Regions from separate parts of the Homo sapiens genome. Here region 1 is linked to region 2. The links come from fine-mapping of genetic effects on gene expression. A gene starts in region 2. The other region holds a variant in brackets. All regions are shown on one strand. Distances are between the middles of the regions.

The links. PIP is the estimated chance that this variant, and not a neighbour inherited with it, causes the effect.
Region 1: its variant is fine-mapped to the expression of RPS6KA1 in whole blood (TOPMed, PIP above 0.99). The same link has a PIP of 0.9 or more in lung and nasal epithelium.

Annotation. Positions count from the first base shown.
Region 1 is chr1:26,571,820-26,577,186 of GRCh38, forward strand. RPS6KA1 (ribosomal protein S6 kinase A1) reads left to right here. Exons shown (of 22, transcript NM_002953.4): 19 at 30-106; 20 at 357-474; 21 at 1,405-1,542; 22 at 2,260-3,206. The coding sequence ends at 2,382. Among named protein-coding and RNA genes, the nearest start is that of MIR1976, 20 kb to the left of the region's middle. The variant C/T (reference allele first, on the strand shown) is at 2,780.
Region 2 is chr1:26,526,897-26,532,238 of GRCh38, forward strand. It overlaps RPS6KA1 (ribosomal protein S6 kinase A1), which reads left to right and starts at 2,865. Exons shown (of 22, transcript NM_002953.4): 1 at 2,865-3,087. The coding sequence starts at 3,025. It overlaps LOC124903884 (a long non-coding RNA gene), which reads right to left and starts at 4,502. Exons shown (of 2, transcript XR_007065558.1): 1 at 4,302-4,502; 2 at 2,224-3,665. RefSeq lists a silencer at 2,750-3,229 and enhancers at 3,471-4,381, 4,382-5,293.

The DNA.
Region 1 (5,367 bases), 45 kb after region 2:
ACTGACCACCTCCCCTGCCCTGTTGCCAGGTGCTGAAGCGCCAGGGCTACGATGAAGGCTGCGACATCTGGAGCCTGGGCATTCTGCTGTACACCATGCTGGCAGGGTGAGTGCCCCTGGCCTGGACCCTTCCCCACTCCTGCAGCCCTAGCACTTGGGCTGAGTGGTGCTTGTCTGATAGGAATGGCTCAGCCAGCCCCGCCCCAGGATGGTCTGGAAATAGGGACATGCTCCTGCCTCCAGGAGCTCTACCTTGGGAGTACCCCATCTGAGGGGGAGACACAGTCTCCCACCGCAGCCCCAGCCCCAGTATGGAGGCCAGAGTCTGTACCCAGACCGTGCGGGCTTTTCTGCAGATATACTCCATTTGCCAACGGTCCCAGTGACACACCAGAGGAAATCCTAACCCGGATCGGCAGTGGGAAGTTTACCCTCAGTGGGGGAAATTGGAACACAGTTTCAGAGACAGCCAAGGTGAGTCTGTACGGCCTGCGTGGGCTTATTTGGAGGAGGGAGGCAGGGTCCCATCCTAGGGCTTTTCAGCAGTTCATGAACAGCCTCATTTCTCCAAGCGGATGTTCCACAAATCCCTGTTGCTGTATTTCTCCAAGCGGAAGATTCCCAGGCAGACCACCACCACCTCCGTACCTTGTTGGGGTAACCTGGTGATCATTCATTGGCCCTTCTCATTCTGGACCCTGTGGGGCACTGAGGGCTGCATCATCACAGTCCCGGCTTTGTGGAAACGTAGTGTAGTGAGGGATACAGGTTTGCACACAAGGGGCAGAGATGCCTGGAGGCACAGATAGGCGGACGCTCTTGGCCAGGGGTGTGGACCGTGGAGACACAGAGCAGAGCAACTGGCCATGCCAAGCAGAGCCTCCTCGGAGGAAGTAGCATGTGAGCTTTCAGTATTAGCAACAGTTTTTGGTCATTGGGAACCTGTATGCCAGACAGAGTTGAACCCTCTATGTACGGCCGGCCACCTCACATCAACCTGTGAGGCAGGGAGTGGTTATTCCTATTTCTCAGCAGGGAAACTGAGGCTCAGAGAGTTGAAGGAACTTGCCCAGGGCACTCATTTGATGAGTGCAGAAGGCAAGTTTTGAACCTGAATCTGTCTGAGCCCAAACCTGAGGCTTTTCCCACCTTCCCACATGGCTTTTTGAAGGCAAAGGAGAAATGGAAGGGTGTTCCAGGACGAAGGGCCTAGAGCAGCAAAGGCCCAGCGACAGGAACCTTGGCTGTGTGCGGGGAGCCCTGGAGCAGAGTGGAGAATGGATCCCAGGGGCTGCCGCAAGGGTTCAGGCGGGAGCTAGCAGGAGATGGTTGCCCTCCTGTGCCCCATCAGGGGCCTGCTCCCCTGCAGCCCTCCCCCAACCCCCTTGCCCACTGTGTCCCCAGGACCTGGTGTCCAAGATGCTACACGTGGATCCCCACCAGCGCCTCACAGCTAAGCAGGTTCTGCAGCATCCATGGGTCACCCAGAAAGACAAGCTTCCCCAAAGCCAGCTGTCCCACCAGGACCTACAGCTTGTGAAGGTATGGCCACCCTTGGGCTGCTGGGCATCTGGGGGGTCAGCCCAAGGTGGCATGGTCAGGGACTTGTGGAAGAGCCAGGCAATGCCATGTCTGTACCAAGCACCATGAGGTGGAACATAGGAGAAGAAGACACAGCCCTGCCGTCAGGGAGCCTAACATGCTACAGTGTCACGGTGCACTCACAGCCCCCAATCCTCTGGAAGGCACAGCTGCTGACCTCTGAACCCTCCAGTCTGATGGGGGAGGCAGGACCCATGACCATAAAGGACCACTGAGGCTGGATTAACAGTGGGCTAGGCTGGGCGCGGTGGCTCACACCTGTAATCCCAGCACTTTGGGAGGCTGAGGTGGGTGGATCACGAGGTCAGGAGTTCAAGACCAGCCTGACCAAGATGGTGAAACCCCATCTCTACTAAAAATACAAAAATTAGCCAGGTGTGGTGGCAAGCGCCTGTAATCCCAGCCATTTGGGAGGCTGAGACAGGAGAATCGCTTGAACCCTGGGGGCAGAGGTTGCAGTGAGCCAAGATTGTGCCATTGCGTTCCAGCCTGGGTGACAGAGTGAGACTGTATCTCAAAAAAAAAAAAACAACAAAAACAAAACCAAAAAAAGTGGGCTGTGGAACACTGAGAGGGGCTGGCCTACCCTTGGGGCATGGATCCCCTCCCCGCTACATCTCCCACCATTGTGACCTGACCTCCCCACTTCTCTTTCAGGGAGCCATGGCTGCCACGTACTCCGCACTCAACAGCTCCAAGCCCACCCCCCAGCTGAAGCCCATCGAGTCATCCATCCTGGCCCAGCGGCGAGTGAGGAAGTTGCCATCCACCACCCTGTGAGGCACCAGGGCATTCGGGCCACAGGGCGGTGCTAGCTTGACACAGTCAGCATGCTTCCCAGAGGGAGCAGGCCGGAACCACAGGGCCAGAGGGAGCTGGAACCCGAGGGGCCGGGGAAGCTGCCAGCCCAGAACACCCCTAATGAGGGTGTGAGAAGTGCCTTCTCCTTCCCCAGGATGGACTCTTCTCGGCTCAGGCTCTGCTGGTGGAAAGCGATTCACTGTATAAACTTTTTTTTATGAAAAAAATGGCATCAACCACCATGGATTTTTACAAGATCCATTTGCCTTTCTGGGAGCAGAAACAGCCATTGCGGCCCCAGGAGGGGAACTGAGTCACGCTGGGGCTCTCTGAGACTCTTTAGAGCAGCTTTGGGATCCCACCCTGGGGACCCCCA[C/T]GATTGGCCACCTGTAGCCATCTGCACACACCTCCGAGACAGTCCAGTGTCACCTCTCTCAGAGCATCTGGCTGTTTAGCAGAACTCATTCTATCCCCAATCAGCTCCTTTTCCGTTCTGTTCTGCTGGGAGTTCTAGAACCACTTCCTGCTACAGGAGGGGTCTCATGTCCTGCTGGCTTCCAGCTTCAGGCACCAGCATCCACCTTGGCTCTGCCAGTGGATCCCCTGCGGTCAGGCTGGGCAGCCCCAGAGAGAGGATGTGGAAAGCACTTTTTGGCTGACTTCATCTGGGGTTGGCAACAGGACAGAGTTCACAGGAGGCCAGTGGGCGGGCCATGAGGGACAGGGTCTTTTTTCATTTCTTCCTCAGCTGGTTACTCAGGGTTCATCTGTCCATGGCCTTTCTAATAAACTGTTGAGTTGAAGCACGCTCTCCTGCACTCTTCATCCCTGAATTTACCCTCTCTCTGCTATCGGATGTTGAAGACATTGGCAGTGACAGAAAATGGGCCAGGGCCAGTTAGCCCAGCTGCTTGGAACCAGGTCATCTGGGGAGTGTGTGGGAATCCCGCTGGCCTGGCCCACGTGTTCCTGCCAGGGGATTCCATTATGGTATTGATAACAGTATTATTAGCCAATGGTGACCAAGTGCCAGGCACTATGCCTGGGCCTCACATGAATATCTCATTTAATCTTAACCCTGTGAGGTAGATGCTCTGTATTATCCCTGTTTTATAGATGGGGAAACAGGCTCAAGTTGGGGAATGACATTTTCTCATGCAGTATTTTCTGAGCACTCATTCTGGCCCTGTTCTGGATGCTGGTGAACCAGGTAAAGAACAAGGTCATTGTGTCCAGGGGTCTTACTTCCCAGTAGGGGAAACGGACACTTAACAAGCCATGGTCAGCTACTGATAAGACACATACAGAATTAAACTGGGGTGAGATATTGGGTAATCAGGGAAGGCCATTCTGGGGAGGTAACCCAGGAGCTGAGATCTGAATGGTGAGAAGGGGTCAGCCAAGACTGGTAGGCAGAGGGCAGTCAGGACAAAGGCCATGAGGGGGAAACAGGCTCGGTGTGCTCAGGGATGAGAGGAGGCTGATGTAGCTGTGACCCCAGAGCCAGGCGTTTGCCCAAGATGAGGCTGGAAAGGAGGCAGAGGCCAGTTATGCTAGGCACTGTAAGCCAGGATTAGGCGTGCATTTAATTCTGAGTGAGGCGCAAGCTCCTAAAATAATTTGAGCAGGAAAGTGACATGATTTGATCATGATTTGATTCACATTTTTAAGAGATCACTCTGGGCCAGGTGCAGTGGTTCACGCCTGTTATCCCACCACTTTGGGAGGCCGAGGCAGGCAGATCACTTGAGGTCAGGAGTTCAAGACCAGCCTGGCCAACATGGCGAAACTCTCTCTACTAGAAATACAAAAATTAGCTGGGTGTGGTGGCGCATGCTCCCACCCATCAGCTCGCAAGGCTGAGGCATGAGAATTGCTTGAATCTGGGAGACAGAGGTTGCAGTGAGCCGCGATCGCACCACTGCACTCCAGCCCAGGCGACAGAGCGAGACTGTCTCAAAAAAATAAAAGATCACTCCGATTGCTCTGTAGAGAATTTGGACAGTGAGGTGGGGAGGCAGGAGGGAAGCAAGGTGACCAGGTTGGTGGCTACTGCAGTAGCCCAGGCAAGAGATGAGGTGGCTTGGACTAGGGTGGTGGGATGGAGATTGGGATGGAGTAGATGGGGTCAGGATATGCTTTGGAGGTAAAGTAGACAGCACTTGCTGGCAGTTTGCATGCAGAGGATAAGGGAAACAGAAGATTCAAGGATATCTTCTAGATTTTTGGGGAAAGAGTTTTGGGGGAAGCATTGGAGAGAAATAGGTTTGAGGAAAATTTTTAGAGCTCTGTGGGAGGTAACTTTTAAGTATCCAAATGGCTGGGCATGGTGGCTCACGCCTGTAATCCCAGCACTTTGGGAGGCCGAGGCAGGTGGATCACCTGAGGTTGAGAGTTCGAAACCAGCCTGACCAACATGGAGAAACCCCGTCTCTACTAAAAATAATAGAAAATTATGCCGGGCGCAGTGGCTCATGCCTGTAATCCCAGCACTTTGGGAGGCCGAGGCGGGCGGATCAGGAGGTCAGGAGATCGAGACAATCCTGGCTAACATGGTGAAACCCTGTCTCTACTAAAAATACAAAAAATTAGCCGGGCCTAGTGGCGGGCACCTGTAGTCCCAGCTACTCAGGAGGCTGAGGCAGGAGAATGGCATGAACCCAGAAAATGGAGCTCACAGTGAGCCGAGATCGTGCCACTGCACTCCAGCCTGGGTGAGAGAGCGAGACTCCATCTCAAAAAATAAATAAATAAATATAAATAAAAATATCCAAATGGAGATGTCAAATAAGAGTTGTAATTAGAAGTTGAAGTTCTAGGGAGAGATCTGAACTGGAAAGATAAATTTGGAAGTCATTAGCTTGGAGAAAGTTTGCAAAGCCAAGAGACGGGGCTTCTGAGAGTGTGGTCCACATACCAGTAGCATCAGCATCATCTGGGAGCTGGGTAGAAGTGCTGAATCTC
Region 2 (5,342 bases):
TGTAGTCCCAGCTACTCGGGAGGCTGAGGCAGGAGAATGGCGTGAACCCGGGAGGCGGAGCTTGCAGTGAGCCGAGATCGCACCACTGCACTCCAGCCTGGGTGACAGAGCGAGACTCCGTCAAAAAAAAAAAAAAAATTAGCCAGGTGTGGTGGCACATGCCTATAGTCCCAGCTACTTGGGAGGCTGAGCAGGAGAATCATTTGAACCCGGGAGGCGGAGGTTGCAGTGAGCCGAGATCAGGCTACTGAACTGCACTCCAGCCTGGGCGACAGAGTGAGACTCCATCTCAAAATAATAATAATAATAATAAAAAGAAGGCTTGGCTTACAATACATGCTCAGAAAGAGGGTCTAGTGTGTAATATATAGCCATAAATAAGCCAGGTGTGGTGGCTGTAATTCCAGCATTTTGGGAGGCTGGAGGATCGCTTGAGGCCAGGAGTTTAAGACCAGCCTGGGCAAGATAGTGAAACCCCATCTCTACAAAAACAAAACATATAAAAAATTAGCTGGGGACCTGGCACAGTGGCTCACGCCTATAATCCCAGCACTTTGGGAGGCCAAGATGGGCAGACCATGAGGTCAGGAGATTGAGACCATCCCAGCTAATACAGTGAAACCCCGTCTCTACTGAAAATACACAACGTTAACCAAGCGTGGTGGCACGCACCTGTAGTCCCAGCTACTCAGGAGGCTGAGGCAGGAGAATTGCTTGAACCTGGGAGGTGGAGGTTGCAGTGAGCTGAGATTGAGCCACTGCACTCCAGCCTGTTGACAGAGCAAGACTCTGTCTCAAAAGAAAAGAAAAAAAATTAGCTGGGCATGGTGGCACACACCTGAAGTGCCAGCTACTTGTGGGAGGTGGGAGGATCGCCTGAGCCCAGAAGTTCAAGGCTGCAGTGAACTACGATTTTACCACTGCACTGCAGCCTAGGCAACAGAGCGAGACTCCGTCTCTAAAAAACAAATAAAAAATATATAGCTGTAAATTTATTGAATTAAAATGAATCTTGTCCTATATACCTGAAAGATTGAGATTATAATTCCCATTTTACAGATGGAGAAATTGAGGTTTAGAGGCATAAAATGAGTTTCCCTGTGTTAAGAAGGTAGCAGAGCTGGAATTCAAACCCAGAATTGTTGGGTTCCAAAGTCCTTTCACTCAAAATTCAGTTCAACAGCTGAGGTCCTACCCTGGGAAAGCCATGGAAAAGGGGGAGCACGTGGATTCTGGAGAAATCCTTATCCACTTTGATTTTTTTTTTTTTGAGATGGAGTCTCTGTCGCCCAGGCTGGAGTGCAGTGGGGGCTATCTCCGCTTACTGCAAGCTCCGCCTCCCGGGTTCACACCATTCTCCTGCCTAAGCCTCCCGAGTAGCTGGGACTACAGGTGCCTGCCACCACGCCCTACTAATTTTTTGTATTTTTAGTAGAGACAGGGTTTCATCATGTTAGCCAGGATGGTTTCAATCTCCTGACCTCGTGATCCGCCCGCCTCGGCCTCCCAGTGCTGGGATTACAGGTGTGACACTTTGATTTTTTTAAGCCCTAGTCTGTTCTCAACCTCTTGTGTGACCTTGGGTAAGTCACTTCATCTTTCCGAGCTTGTTTCAGGATTTGTAAACTAGGTGGTGGTAATCATTCAAGGAAATCACATGGCTCGCAGGAAGCTTTTGATAAACATTCCTTCCCATTCCCCTGCCTTAGAACAGCTTTGCAAATAACTGACCAGTCTTCCTGCGAAACCAGCAAGCTTGTCCCTCCAGCAAGCTCACTCCTCACATGTGAATACATCTCAGCACACCCGGACCCCTAAGGCTCTTTAGGTGGAGGCTGAATCTCTCTGGGGCAACCAGTCTCCCTGGCCTTTCACTCCAAGTCCCACCAAGCCTCGGTTCATCCTGGGAGCCTGGTCCCTCCTCAGAGAGTCGCAAACCCAAACTAGTCCAGAGCTGGGGCTGCAGGTGACTCCAGGGAGACCTGACCTGAAAGGACCCCCTTCAAGTGATAGGGCAGAGCACAGATTGCAAAAACGCATATTAAGAAATCACTCTTGGCCGGGCGCGGTGGCTCATGCCTGTAATCCCAGCACTTTGGGAGGCCGAGGCAGGAGGATCACTTGAGCCGGGGAGTCAGAGACCAGCCTAGGTAACAAAGCGAAACTTCGTGTCTCTCTCTCTCTCACTATATACACACATACATACATATATGTGCATATATATAATATTTATTTATACATATTTATTTATATATGTAATATTTATATACATTATGTAAAATCAATCGATCAATCAATCACTCTGTGGTGGCACTATGGGTCCTGATGGTGGTAACAACTGCTGATGCCCATCTTGGCCTGGGGCACTGAGATCGCCCGGAGATCACAGTGTTAGCTTCAGGGCGGGGTAGAAATTAGAGGATAGGGGATCTCTAGGGCCTGGTGAGTTGAGGGCCTAAGGGGAGTGGGTCTCAGGCTCCTTCCAAGCCTCAGCCTAGATCAGGCCCAGGAACCCAGTGTGAATGTGTGTGCTGGGGTCGGGGATAAGGTGCTTCTCTCCCGTTGGAAGGAGAAGGAACATCTGGGCTGGGATTCCAAAAGAGCTGAGCGGGGGAGAACGGTGGCCCTGGTGTGGTGTGTCCAGGGGTACACCACTGGAAGGGAAGGAGCCAGCAGGGCCTCTCCGGCGGAGCCGAGCGCGGGCCGGGGGCTCGCGGCAGGGGCGGGGCCGGCCCTCGGGGCGCGGCGGGGGCGGGGGTCCGCGCTGGGAATGCCGCGCCGCGGGGGCTGGGGCGGGGCTTCTCCGGCTCCGCCCCCGCGCAGGTAGCCAATGGGCGCGGCGGCGCCGGGTGACGGAGGGAGCCGAAGTGCTAGTGCCGCGGCGGCGGCGGCGGACGGCCCAGCCGGAGCGCGAGGGGCTCGGGGGGGCGCGGCGGTTCGGGTCGCAGAGCCAGGGACCCCAGGACCCGGGAGGCGGCGCAGCCGGGGCCGCCGGAGGAGCGCGGGTGACCTGGCGGCGGCGAGATGCCGCTCGCCCAGCTCAAGGAGCCCTGGCCGCTCATGGAGCTAGTGCCTCTGGACCCGGAGGTGAGTGAGCGGGGCGGGGGACGGGCGCCCGCGGCCGGCGAGCCCGGATCCTCACAGGGGCGGGGCGGCCCGAAGCGCCGCTGCAGTCCGGCGGGCGCCCGCGAGGGCGCGAGTGCCCTCCGATCTCTTGCCCACTGTCCGGCTCCACCCCCCTATGCCCGGGTGTGCGTGTGCGAGGGACAGTTCCGCCAAGCGCCGACTACCTCCCCGCCATAGCCAGGAGAGGGGATCCTATGGGGCGCTGAGATCTGGTCGCCTTCACCCCACACCTAGGACCCGTCCCGGCATCTGTCCAGAGCTGTCGGAGCTTCCTCCATTAATGCAGACGGGGAGATCTTCAGTGCCAGATGTCTGGGATTCTACCAGAGACAGGGGTTATGGGACCCCCACTTCTCCCAGGGCCCTCCGCCAAGAGCTCCCTGCTTCTGGCTTCACCGCTGCTGAGCCTAGAAGGATTGCTCCTCTTGACCCCTGGCGGATGCGGAGTGTGGGATGGCACCACCCGTCTGGGGCTGGAACTCCTGGTTTTCTTTGCCCTGAGGCTAGGGCCAGAGGACACCTGTGTGCCCTACCCCAGGCTGTGGAGACGAGAGTGGGGAAGAGCCCTTAGACCTTGTGAAGATGATTCCTGGCAGGGCGTGGGGGGACCTTGGTGCCTGCCTCCCTTCTTATGCCCCTTCCGGTAGGAAGGGCTGGGCCCTTGGGGAGTTTGGCTTCTGCCAGCCCAGACTCCCCAGACAACCCAGCTCCTTCTCTCTCAGAAGCAGCTCCTGACCTCCCTTGAGGGCTCTGTGGCTCCAGTCCCTAAGCGTGCAGAAGGCCACCTCTTCCTGTGCCTTTTGACCCCAGGGTCAAGGTCAAGCCCCTGAATGAGCTGGTGGAAAACTTCCTCCTTAACCTCTTGCTGGGAAGGAAGCAGGTGATATTCTCCTTCCCAGGTGGTTGTTGGGGGTATGCAGGGAGGGAATGGAGACCTCATTTGAGCCCAGGAGCTGAGATGACTTTCTCCCAGCTTGGGCCTGGAGCCCCTGTCTCAGTCCCCTCCTCTGCCCTCTCTTACCTAGGGCAGCCACCAAGTGTCCTGCCTCTCAGGACCACAGGCTTAGATCAGGGTGAGCACCCAGGGTCCCCAGCCCCCAGGGTGTGCTGCCCCTTTAAAGGGATGGCCGACACTGGCTATTGGAGGGTGGGCGCGGCAGGATTAGGTAACCAACCTGAAGGAGCAATTTGGAGTAAATTGCTCTGGGATTCCTGCCATGGGGATTTTACAGGCACTGCTAGGCTGCTCAGAGGTTCTCTCGCTGACTCACCCTCTGAGGTGAGGAACACTGCCCTCTGCAGCCCCTGTACTGCCACCCCGCTACTAGGACCGGGGCGCAAGGTCCTGGGGGTGGTGCTCAGAGGTGGATTCCTTTGCCCAGGCACGCCCCTGGGACCAGGCCTCCAAAGGAGAAGGTAGGGCTGGGAGAGGCTGGGGAGTGACTTTATGCTGATAGGGAGGGTGGACACCCAGGAGCTCGATCCTGGGGCACCACTTCCTGCTTCTCTTTAGGGAATCCTGAGGCAGGGGCCAGCTTCACCAGGGAGCCAGGTTTAACTGGGAAACTCATCTCAGTTTTGAGTTCTGTAACATCTCAGGTCTGTGAGAGGGGAAGACCAGCGGACTTCCTGGGATTGGTGGGGCAGGGGGACGCAATTTCCTCAGGAGCTTCGCTCCAGAAACGATGTGTGATCCTCAGTCAGTCCTCAGCCTGTCTGGGCCTCTGCTTCTCCAGTGGCAAGTGCTAGGTTCTAGCCTCCACTTCCTGGGCCTGAGAGGGTGCAGAGCGCTGGGTACTGTTGTCTGGTCCCCCCTCCCCCACTCCTGGAGGTGCCAGGCGACTGGGTGTTATTGTTTGGGTAACAGGAGCCACAGGGCAGCCACGGCGCAGGTTGGGCTGTTCTCACTGGAGAACAGGGCCTCGCTGTTCTTAGCCCAGGTGACATGTAAGCGATACAGCCGCCTGACCTGCACGTACAGGCACCACCACTGCTGGCAGCTCCTAGCCAGGAAGGAGGCAGGTGAGGGGCTGGTGGGGGACTTTTCACAGGGACCTAGGATCTGGACTGCCCTGCCCTCCCTTAATGCTGCTGAAAATGGGCCGCTGGGAGGCAGGGCCTGGCCCAGGGTGCAGCCCAGGTGGAGTAATCTATGGGAAGCGTGGGTGAGGATTCTGCCTGGGCCTCGCTTAGCCCTGTTGAAAGCAGTAGCCTTG